Linked DNA regions of Homo sapiens. The protein of the gene in region 1 purifies or fractionates together with the protein of each later gene. This does not show direct contact. Each region holds a gene or a part of one and is shown in the gene's direction. Other genes may lie near its edges.

Region 1 (5,040 bases):
CTGGAGGGAGTGACCCGGGGCCAGAGCGGGACCTATGGCTGCAGAGTGGAGGATTACGACGCGGCAGATGACGTGCAGCTCTCCAAGACGCTGGAGCTGCGCGTGGCCTGTGAGAGCCCTGGGTGAACGGGCGGGCAGGAGGGGCCCTGGCATCAGTGCCTCTGCGCCCTCCTCCCTACAGCCCTGAAGTTGCTCTGTCATCCCAAACACTCTGCCTTCAACCCTTTCTCTGCATTTCTTGGGGGTTTTTTTGGTTGTTTTTTTTTTTTTTTTTTTCCCAGAGACAGGACCTGGCTACGTTGCCCAGGCTGGTCTCGAACTCCTCATGCGATCCTCCTGCCTTGCTCTCCCAAAGTGCTGGGATTACAGGAGTGAGCCACCGCATCTTGTCGAGAGCTCTTTCCATAGCACAGACCTGACCCTCCTCTGCTCAGAATCTGCCATGGCTCCCCAGTACCCTTGGGAGAAGCCCAGGTGTCTCACCATGGCCTTCAAGGTCCACCTGGCCAGTTCCACCATTAGCTAGCTGATCCTTCTCCCCAGTCAAGGCTATCTCCTCATCACCCCCCAGGCTCCTCTGGTTCCTACCTTCACTGCCCATCCTTCCTACCGTCTATTTCTCACCAATCCCTTGAATCCCAGGCTTCTAAGAATGATTTTCAGTTCATTCGCATCCAGGCCCTGGGGAAAGGCTGTATTCTCCCTTGGCACTTCTTACATATCCCTTCCTGGGGTAGACCCTGCGCCAGATGCTGGGGACACATCTGTGAACAAGACAGACCACCCCTGTTATTTCAGTAGGGGAGACAGATGGTAAATGCTAACTAAGCCCTTTCGTAACAGTAGTGTATCTACAGGTGATATCACCAGTGAGAGAGAGCAGGAGAGGGGATTATTTTAGGTGGCAGGTGTTGCAGTCTGCTTTCCTGAGAAGCAGATTCTGACTTGGATGTTTTCAGGCAAGAAGTTTATGGGAAGTACCCTGGGTTCCGCACCTCTTGGGTCTAGGGAGGTAAAGGAAGCAAGATTTGGCAAGGTGAGAAGTTGGACTGAAGTCTAAGGAAGGTCTCAGGCTGGGTGCAGTGGTTCATGCCTATAATCCCAGCACTTTGAGAGGCTGAGGCAGGAGGATTGTATGAGCCTAGGAGTTTGAGGCCAGCCTGGGCAACAGAGGGAGACCCCATTTGCACACACACACACACAAATTAAAAATTAGCCAGGCATAGTGGCACACACCTGTAGTCCCAGCTACTCGGAGGCCCAGGTGGGAGGATCCCTTGAGTCTGGAAGGTTGAAACTGCAGTGAGCCAAGATTGTGCCACTGCACTCCAGCCTGAGCGACAGAGAAAGACCCCGTCTCAGGAAAAATAAAAATAAAAAAGTAGGCCGGGCCCCGTGGCTCATGCCTGTAATCCCAACACTTTGGGAGGCCGAGGTGGGTGGATCACCTGAGGTCAGGAGTTAGAGACCAGCCTGGCCAACATAGTGAAACCCCCTCTGTACTAAAAGTTAGCCGGGTGTGGTGGCATGCACCTGTAATCCCAGCCACTCAGGAGCCTGAGGCAGGAGAATCGCTTGAACCCAGGAAGCGGAGATTGCAGTGAACTGAGATCGTGCCATTGCACTCCAGCCTGGGCAACAGAGTGAGACTCCATCTCAGAAACAAATAAAAGAAAGAAAGAGGGCCTCAGTCAGCCCCACGGGGTACTTGGAATCCAGGATGGCCCTTCACAGTTGTCCCCAGTTGGGGTGAGGGGGCTGGGCCTTAATAACCTCTACATCAACCAGTCCTCAGAGGTGTGCTGGCCTTAGGCAAGGGGCTCTCAGCAGCTGAGGCAGCTCCCAGAGAGGGGTGACAGCTGCAGGCTGACAGCTGTCATCCTTCTTAGCAGCTGGTGGAATAAGTCCTTCCGTGCTGTAGGAAAGATCTGGGTGTCCACAATAGGGGAGGTCAGGGAAGCCTCTGAGAAGAGACATTTAAGTGAGACTCAGAAAAGCAGACAGCAGCCAGGCACAGTGGCTCACACCTGTAATCCCAGCACTTTGGGAGGCCGAGGCAGGTGGATCACCTGAGGTCAGGAGTTCGAGACCAGCCTGGCCAACATGGTGAAACCCCATCTCTACTAAAAATATAAAAATTAGCCAGGCATGATGGCTGGTGCCTGTAATCCCAGCTACCCAGGAGACTGAGGCAGGAGAATCGCTTGATCCTGGGAGGCGGAGGTTGCAGTGAGCTGAGATCGTGCCACTGAACTCCAGCCTGGGTGACAGAGCAAGAGTCTGTCTCAAAGAAAAAAGAAATTGGCCGGGCACGGTGGCTCACACCTGTAATCCCAGCACTTTTGGGAGGCAGAGGCGGGCAGATCATGAGGTCAGGAGTTTGAGACCATCCTGGCTAACACGGTGAAATCCCGTCTCTACTAAAAATACAAAAAATTAGCTGGGCGTGGTGGCAGGTGCCTGTAGTCCCAGGTACTCGGGAGGCTGAGGCAGGAGAATGGCATGAACCCAGGAGGCAGAGCTTGCAGTGAGCTGAGATCCCGCCACTGCACTCTAGCCTGGGCGACAGAGCCAAACTCTCTCAAAAAAAAATAATAAGAAGAAGAAATGCAGAGAGCTACAAAAAGAGCACTGCAAGTAGAGTGAGCAAGTGCAAAGGCCCTGAGGCAGGCCCCAACTTGGTCTACTCAAGAAAAACAGCAAGAGAACGGGGTAGCTGGGAGCACAGGAGGAATGGGGAAGAGTGGGAGATGGTTCAAGAGGTGGGTGAGGGCCAGACCAGGCAGCATCTTTTAGGCACCCTCAAGAAGTTTGGCCTCGATGCCAAGGGTACTGGGGAGCCACTGCAGGGTTTTATGCAGAGGGGAGGGATGACCAGTGGGTGGTTGGTTTTTTTTGTTTTTTTTTTTTTGAGTCAGAGTCTCACTCTGTCACCCAGGCTGGAGCGCAGTGGCACAATCTCGGCTCACTGCAACCTCCACCTCCCAGGTTCAAGCGATTCTCCTGCCTCAGCCTCCCAAGTAGCTGGGACTATAGGCATGCACCACTATGCCCAGCTAGCTTTTGGATTTTTAGTAGAGATGGGGTTTCACCATGTGACCAGGGTGGTCTCGAACTCCTGACATCAGGTGATGCACCCGCCTCGGCCTCCCAAAGTGCTGGGGTTATAGGCATGAGCCACCGTGCCCGGCCTGACCAGTGGATGTTTTAAAGAGGTCCCTCTAGCTGCTCAGTGGAGGATGGACAAGAGGGAGGAGCAGGCTAGTGAAGAGGTGGTTGGGACAGTCAAACCTGGGGCCAGAGGTGGCAGGAAGCCAGAGGATTTGTCCTGGGAGCAGACCAGATAAAGACTTGCTGAGGCCAGGAGCAGGGGCTCACGCCTGTGATCCTAGCACTTTTGGGAGGTCAAGACAGGAGGATCACTTGAGGCCAGGAGTTTGAGACCCAGCCTGGCCAACATAGCAACACCTTGTCTCTATTCAAAAACAAAACTTTGCAGAAAAGATGTTTGGGGGTAACAGGGAGGTTACCCCACAGGTTGGGGTTTGAGCAAAAGGTTTGTGTGCTAAAGTCACAGAAGGGACACCTTCCACACCTAAGGTTATTCATTAACCTTGGGCTCAGATGTCAGCTCTGAAGAAAAGTAATTGACTTGGGCATGTCAATGTTGGGGTTAGACTGCTAGATTTTTGGTTGGAGAGCCTGGATGGGAGAATGGAGATTTCATGGAGATGGGGTAAACCAGGAGGATTACTTGCTGTTCTCTGCTTCCAACTGTCCATTCATGTTTGCACCCCCGACCGCCCCTGGAGAGCCCCTAATTGAGTGGGTGGCGGTCTGGGACGAGTGACAGACTGTCCCCCACTGCAGATCTGGACCCCCTGGAGCTCAGCGAGGGGAAGGTGCTTTCCTTACCTCTAAACAGCAGTGCAGTCGTGAACTGCTCCGTGCACGGCCTGCCCACCCCTGCCCTACGCTGGACCAAGGTGAGAGGGAGAGGAGCCCCCTCGGGCCCTGCACTCGCACCCTCCTCTCTCCCCTCACTCCTCGCCCTCTCACAGCGTCCTCCTCCTCCTCTGCCCTTCCCAGGACTCCACTCCCCTGGGCGATGGCCCCATGCTGTCGCTCAGTTCTATCACCTTCGATTCCAATGGCACCTACGTATGTGAGGCCTCCCTGCCCACAGTCCCGGTCCTCAGCCGCACCCAGAACTTCACGCTGCTGGTCCAAGGTTCAGGGGGCAGGGAGGGGGTGGGCTTGGATGGGGACAGTGTGGGGTGTGGGACCTGGACAAACAGGACGAGTTCCTGAGTCCCTGGCTGGGGACTCCATCTTCTGCTCGATGCCTCTCTTCTCTCTCTCTCTCCTCTCCCTTCACTTTCTTCCCATCCCCACCACCCACAGGCTCGCCAGAGCTAAAGACAGCGGAAATAGAGCCCAAGGCAGATGGCAGCTGGAGGGAAGGAGACGAAGTCACACTCATCTGCTCTGCCCGCGGCCATCCAGACCCCAAACTCAGCTGGAGCCAATTGGGGGGCAGCGTAAGGGACCTTCCTCTCCACCCTGAGCCCCCTCTCACTCATCCAAGTATCACACCCTCCTTTCCACTTCCTGGGAGACTGGACGTCGTTCACCTCTGCCCTTGACCCCACCCCTTGACCCCACCAGCCGGGGCCTGATCGGAGCCTCCATAGCCCGCAGAGCCAATCCCCGGACGGCAGGGTTGGGTGAGCAGCTCTCTGACCCTGAAAGTGACCAGCGCCCTGAGCCGCGATGGCATCTCCTGTGAAGCCTCCAACCCCCACGGGAACAAGCGCCATGTCTTCCACTTCGGCACCGGTGAGTGACTGAGGTGGTGGCAGAGGAGCCGGGTGTGGGGCAGACAGAGCCCACTGCCTGACCCACGCCTCTCTCCATCCTGTCCCTGCAGTGAGCCCCCAGACCTCCCAGGCTGGAGTGGCCGTCATGGCCGTGGCCGTCAGCGTGGGCCTCCTGCTCCTCGTCGTTGCTGTCTTCTACTGCGTGAGACGCAAAGGGGGC
Region 2 (4,269 bases), on another chromosome or scaffold:
TCCTTGTGGATGAATATGGCATGGAAGAAGGCTGTCGGCAGGGACTGCTAGACATGCTCCAGGTATCTTTTCCATGAGGAGTGTAGACGCATCAGGCCTAGAGGGTCTGAAGGCCTAGCAGCGTATTCTTTACCATGTCTTTAATTCTGTTGCTTCTTTATGTTTTCCCCCAGGCATGTTGATTTCCTAATAACAGGGAGGTGGAAGCTTCCCAGTTGTTCTCTGAACAGGCCTGTTTGAGAGAATGAGAGACTGACCACATGAGTGTAATGATTATTACATGTTACTGCCTGGTTTATGCTCTTCCAGAGATAGGGTGTTTGGAGGGGGGAGGAGGTGAGAAAAATGAATCTCTAAGCTCAAGCATTATTGTATTTTTAACTTCTTGCCTGGAACAGCCAACTGACTAGTTTACTTAGCAGCAGGGAGGGTTTTAGAATTAATAATAGCATTGGAAACAGCTCCTCAGATACTGCTTTTCCCTCCCTTCCAGCCACAGAGGGGAATATTGAGTTGAAGAATGTTGTTTCTTTTCCCAAGATGTCTTTTCATTTAAAATTGATATTTCATAATTATTATAAAAACTTCCACTCCCTTAGTGGACTATACCTAAATAGAATCTTTGCTTTCAGAAATTTCTAAAACTTTGAGATGACATCTGTTGAGTTTTATCAGCTAAAATCTGTTTTCTCAACCCTTTCTTAAATGTGGACTTCATAGGTGAAAACTGTTTATGTCAACTGGGAAGGATTTATGTGTTTCTTTTCCTGATCAGATTCTCATTACAATCTTTTTCTTTTCCCAGCTGTGCTTTTCTTCTTTGTTCCTTTTGTACTTATTGTAATAAATATTTGGCAAGTCTGAATGCTGTGGCATTTCTGAAAAAGCATTTCTTTTAAAATCACTGTTTTGTTTTAGGCACTGTGCATCCCCACCTTTCAGCTCCTAGAACAGCAGAATGGTCTCCAGAATCACCCTGACACTGTAGATGACCTGTTCCGGCTAGCCACCAGGTAAATCCTTCTGAAGAGCCCATTTCTTAATTGCTCATCCTATCACTGCTTAGTCTTGCCATCTGACCCTTGGTTGTTTTATTCTTGTAAAATGAAGTCACTGGAGTAAGTAGATTAATGATTCATAACCCAAAGGTAAATTGCAAGCTGATATATCCCCAGCAGTGACGCAGAGTATTGCGGGAAGCAAGGGATAAAGGAGCTGAGTTCCTGCCAGGAAGGAGGGCTCACACACAAGACAATGCAGTGTGCCTGGCAAAACACTTGACTAGATCATCTCTACAGTCCTCTGTAGGTTTTAACTGTTCGTGCTGTTGCGATTTCATGTTTCACCTCAACCTTCTCTTTGAGAAGCTTAGCATCCTTTAGATATAATCAGTTTCGGAATAAAGAATGTTTGGGATTTTAAGATGCCTTAGCAGTTATCTCATACTGTATTTCTCAGCTCTACTCACAGCCTACTTTATCAGTAGCACTGATAATATGATTGCCAAACTTCTGCTTGAATTCCTTAGTCCCTAACTAAGGAATTTGAACCAAAACTGTTACCATATCAGCATTAAAAAAAAAAAAAAAAGAAAAATCATTATTTTCGAAACAACAAAAGCCCAACTGTTATATCATTTACAAATGCAAAGTAATGTTGACTTGATTGTTTCATCTTAGGATTGATTTTTTTTCTTTTTTCTTTTTTGAGATGGACTCTCACTCTGTTGCCCAGGCTGGAGTGCAATGGCATGATCTCGGCTCACTGCAACCTCTGCCTCCTGGGTTCAAGTGATTCTCCTACCTCAGCCTCCCGAGTAGTTGGGATTACAGGTGCCCACCACCATGCCCAGCTAATTTTTGTATTTTTAGTAGAGACGGGGTTTTGCCATGTTGATCAGGCTGGTCTCAAACTCCTGGCCTCAGGTGATCCGCCCACCTTGGCCTCCCAAAGTCCTGGGATTACAGGCGTGAGCCACCGTACCTGGCAGGATTGAATATTGAACCCTTTTTTTTTGTTAGTTTTTGGATAGGTTAGAAAAACCCTTTTTTTTTCCTTTTCTTTTTTTTTTTTTTTCAGTTGATAGAATTGTTGGATGGGCTGTCACCCTCTGTTTTCTTTTTTTTTTTTTTTTTTTTTTTTTTTGAGACGGAGTCTCGCTCTGTCGCCCAGGCTGGAGTGCAGTGGCGTGATCTTGGCTCACTGCAAGCTCTGCCTCCTGGGTTCACGCCATTCTCCTGCCTCAGCCTCCCGAGTAGCTGGGACTACAGGCACCCGCCACCACACCCAGCTAATTTTTTGTATTTTTAGTAGAGACGGGGTTTCACTGTGTTAGCCAGGATGGTCTCGATCTCCTGACCTCGTGATCCACCCTCCTCGGCCTCCCAAAGTGCTGGGATTACAGGCCTGAGCCACCACGCCCGGCACACCCTCTGTTTTCTTAGGGTATGTATTCCTTGGAAAACTAGTCCCTAAAAATGTTCTTTATACAAATGATGAAACAAGTTTGGAGTATACTGTACCTTTTTCTGAAGAGATTCTCCCTGTATATTAAAGGAACTTAGAAACCTGATAGTAGTTTAAAGGAAAAAATAAACAAGCAAAACTACTTTCAAAATCCAGCAGCATTTCCCAAGCTTACCTGAACACACAACCTTTTCTTTGAGGGATTCCTGTTGACATCCTGGGAACTGGAATTCTGTGAACTTTAGTTTGGGAAATGCTGTTCTAGCATCTTTAGGACTTTTTAACCTAGGAGAGTTTCTACTTGTAGGTCCTTTTGACTGGTCTTTCTTGATTTATAAAATCTTAGTTGGAAATAGGATGTGGTGACACGTCTTTTAATATACTAATCTTAAGATATGGTCCTTTTTTTTTAAAGAGCAACTTTAGGTTCACTGCAAATTTGAGTGAAAAGTTGCTCCCATATACCCCTCCCTCCTAACACACACAGCCTTCCCCTCTATTAGCATCCCCCACCAGAGTAATACAAACAGTGACCCTATATGAACACATCATTATCACCCAAAGTCCATAGTTTACATTAGGCTTCACTCTTGGTGTACATTCTGTGGGTTTTGACAAATGTGTAATGACATGTATCCACTGTTATAGTATCATACAGAATACTTTCACTGCCAAAAAAAATCCTCTATGTTCTGTCTATTCATCCCTTCTTCCCTGAAACCCCCCACCAACCACTGATCTTTTTTACTGTCTTCATAGTTTTGCCCTTTTACCCTGGCTGCTTTTATAGCCTAATCTTGTCATTTATACCTAGTCTCACTTTCCACACCAGGTTTATTCAGCGTAGCCCTGTCACCTTGCTGCGGAGCCAAGTGGTCATCCCTATCTTACAGTGGGCCATTGCCTCTACTACCCTGGACCACCGGGATGCCAATTGTAGTGTCATGAGGTTTCTACGAGACCTCATTCATACAGGGGTAGCCAATGATGTAAGTATAAAAATGATACCATTTCTACTTAACAGCTTTTATCTCCTATCTCTTTGTCATTCCTTAGGAGAAAACCAGCATCCCAGTATTTCCTTACTTGATCTATATTGGTAGACATATATCATAGTGGATCATTCACTAGCCAAAATATCAACTAAGACACTTGTGCTGGGTGCTTTAGGCTATATAAAGCAGTCTAAAACTGTTCATGCTCCCAAATCATTTGGTGTCTAGTTGAAGAGAGAAACAAGTTTAAAGAGTTAAGTAACAACAAGATGCCAGTGTTTGGTGTTTTTCATTTGTTTTTGAAACAGGGTCTTGCTCTGTCGCCTAGGCTGGAGTACAGTGATGTGAATCTCAAGGGATCCTCAGCTACTGAGTAGCCAGGACTACAGACATTCAACACCATGCCTGGCTAGTTTTTATATTTTTTGTAGAGATGGCATTTCACCATGTTGCCCAGGTTGGTCTTGAACTCCTGGCCTCAAGTGATCCTCCCACCTTGGCCTCCAGTATTTGATTGTCAGATGAGTGATAAAAGTCATGATTGGTATGAGATCAGACGAGGGAAAGCTCTAGACCAAAAAGAGTTGGAATAACTTTATGGAAGGGGAGGGATTTAAATGAAGCCATGAATTAGAGGTAGAATTTTGATGGATTAGAGAGGCAGATAGTCATACTGCCTCTAAGCCAAGATCAGAGCAAGTCAGAATAGTACTAAGTTTGTTAGTAGACAACTAAGCAGTGGGAGTAGTAAAGTGCTTCACAGGAATTTCGAAGGTAGGTTTGATTAGATGTGGAGTAGAATTGTAGA

What was found. The genes of interacting proteins can lie anywhere in the genome.
Region 2: the proteins of BCAM (region 1) and TNPO3 purify together in Homo sapiens (affinity purification with mass spectrometry; 2 studies listed by BioGRID and IntAct, with this or other methods). This does not show direct contact.

What each region holds. Positions count from the first base shown.
Region 1 is NC_000019.10:44,814,652-44,819,691, forward strand, and holds part of BCAM (basal cell adhesion molecule isoform 1 precursor), read left to right. Parts: coding exon 1-109; intron 110-3,870; coding exon 3,871-3,986; intron 3,987-4,089; coding exon 4,090-4,231; intron 4,232-4,404; coding exon 4,405-4,541; intron 4,542-4,694; coding exon 4,695-4,839; intron 4,840-4,930; coding exon 4,931-5,040. UniProt on the Homo sapiens protein: Transmembrane glycoprotein that functions as both a receptor and an adhesion molecule playing a crucial role in cell adhesion, motility, migration and invasion.
Region 2 is NC_000007.14:128,971,612-128,975,880, reverse strand, and holds part of TNPO3 (transportin-3), read left to right. Parts: coding exon 1-62; intron 63-173; exon of another isoform or gene 174-336; intron 337-918; coding exon 919-1,013; intron 1,014-3,298; coding exon 3,299-3,455; intron 3,456-4,269. UniProt on the Homo sapiens protein: Importin, which transports target proteins into the nucleus. Specifically mediates the nuclear import of splicing factor serine/arginine (SR) proteins, such as RBM4, SFRS1 and SFRS2, by recognizing phosphorylated SR domains.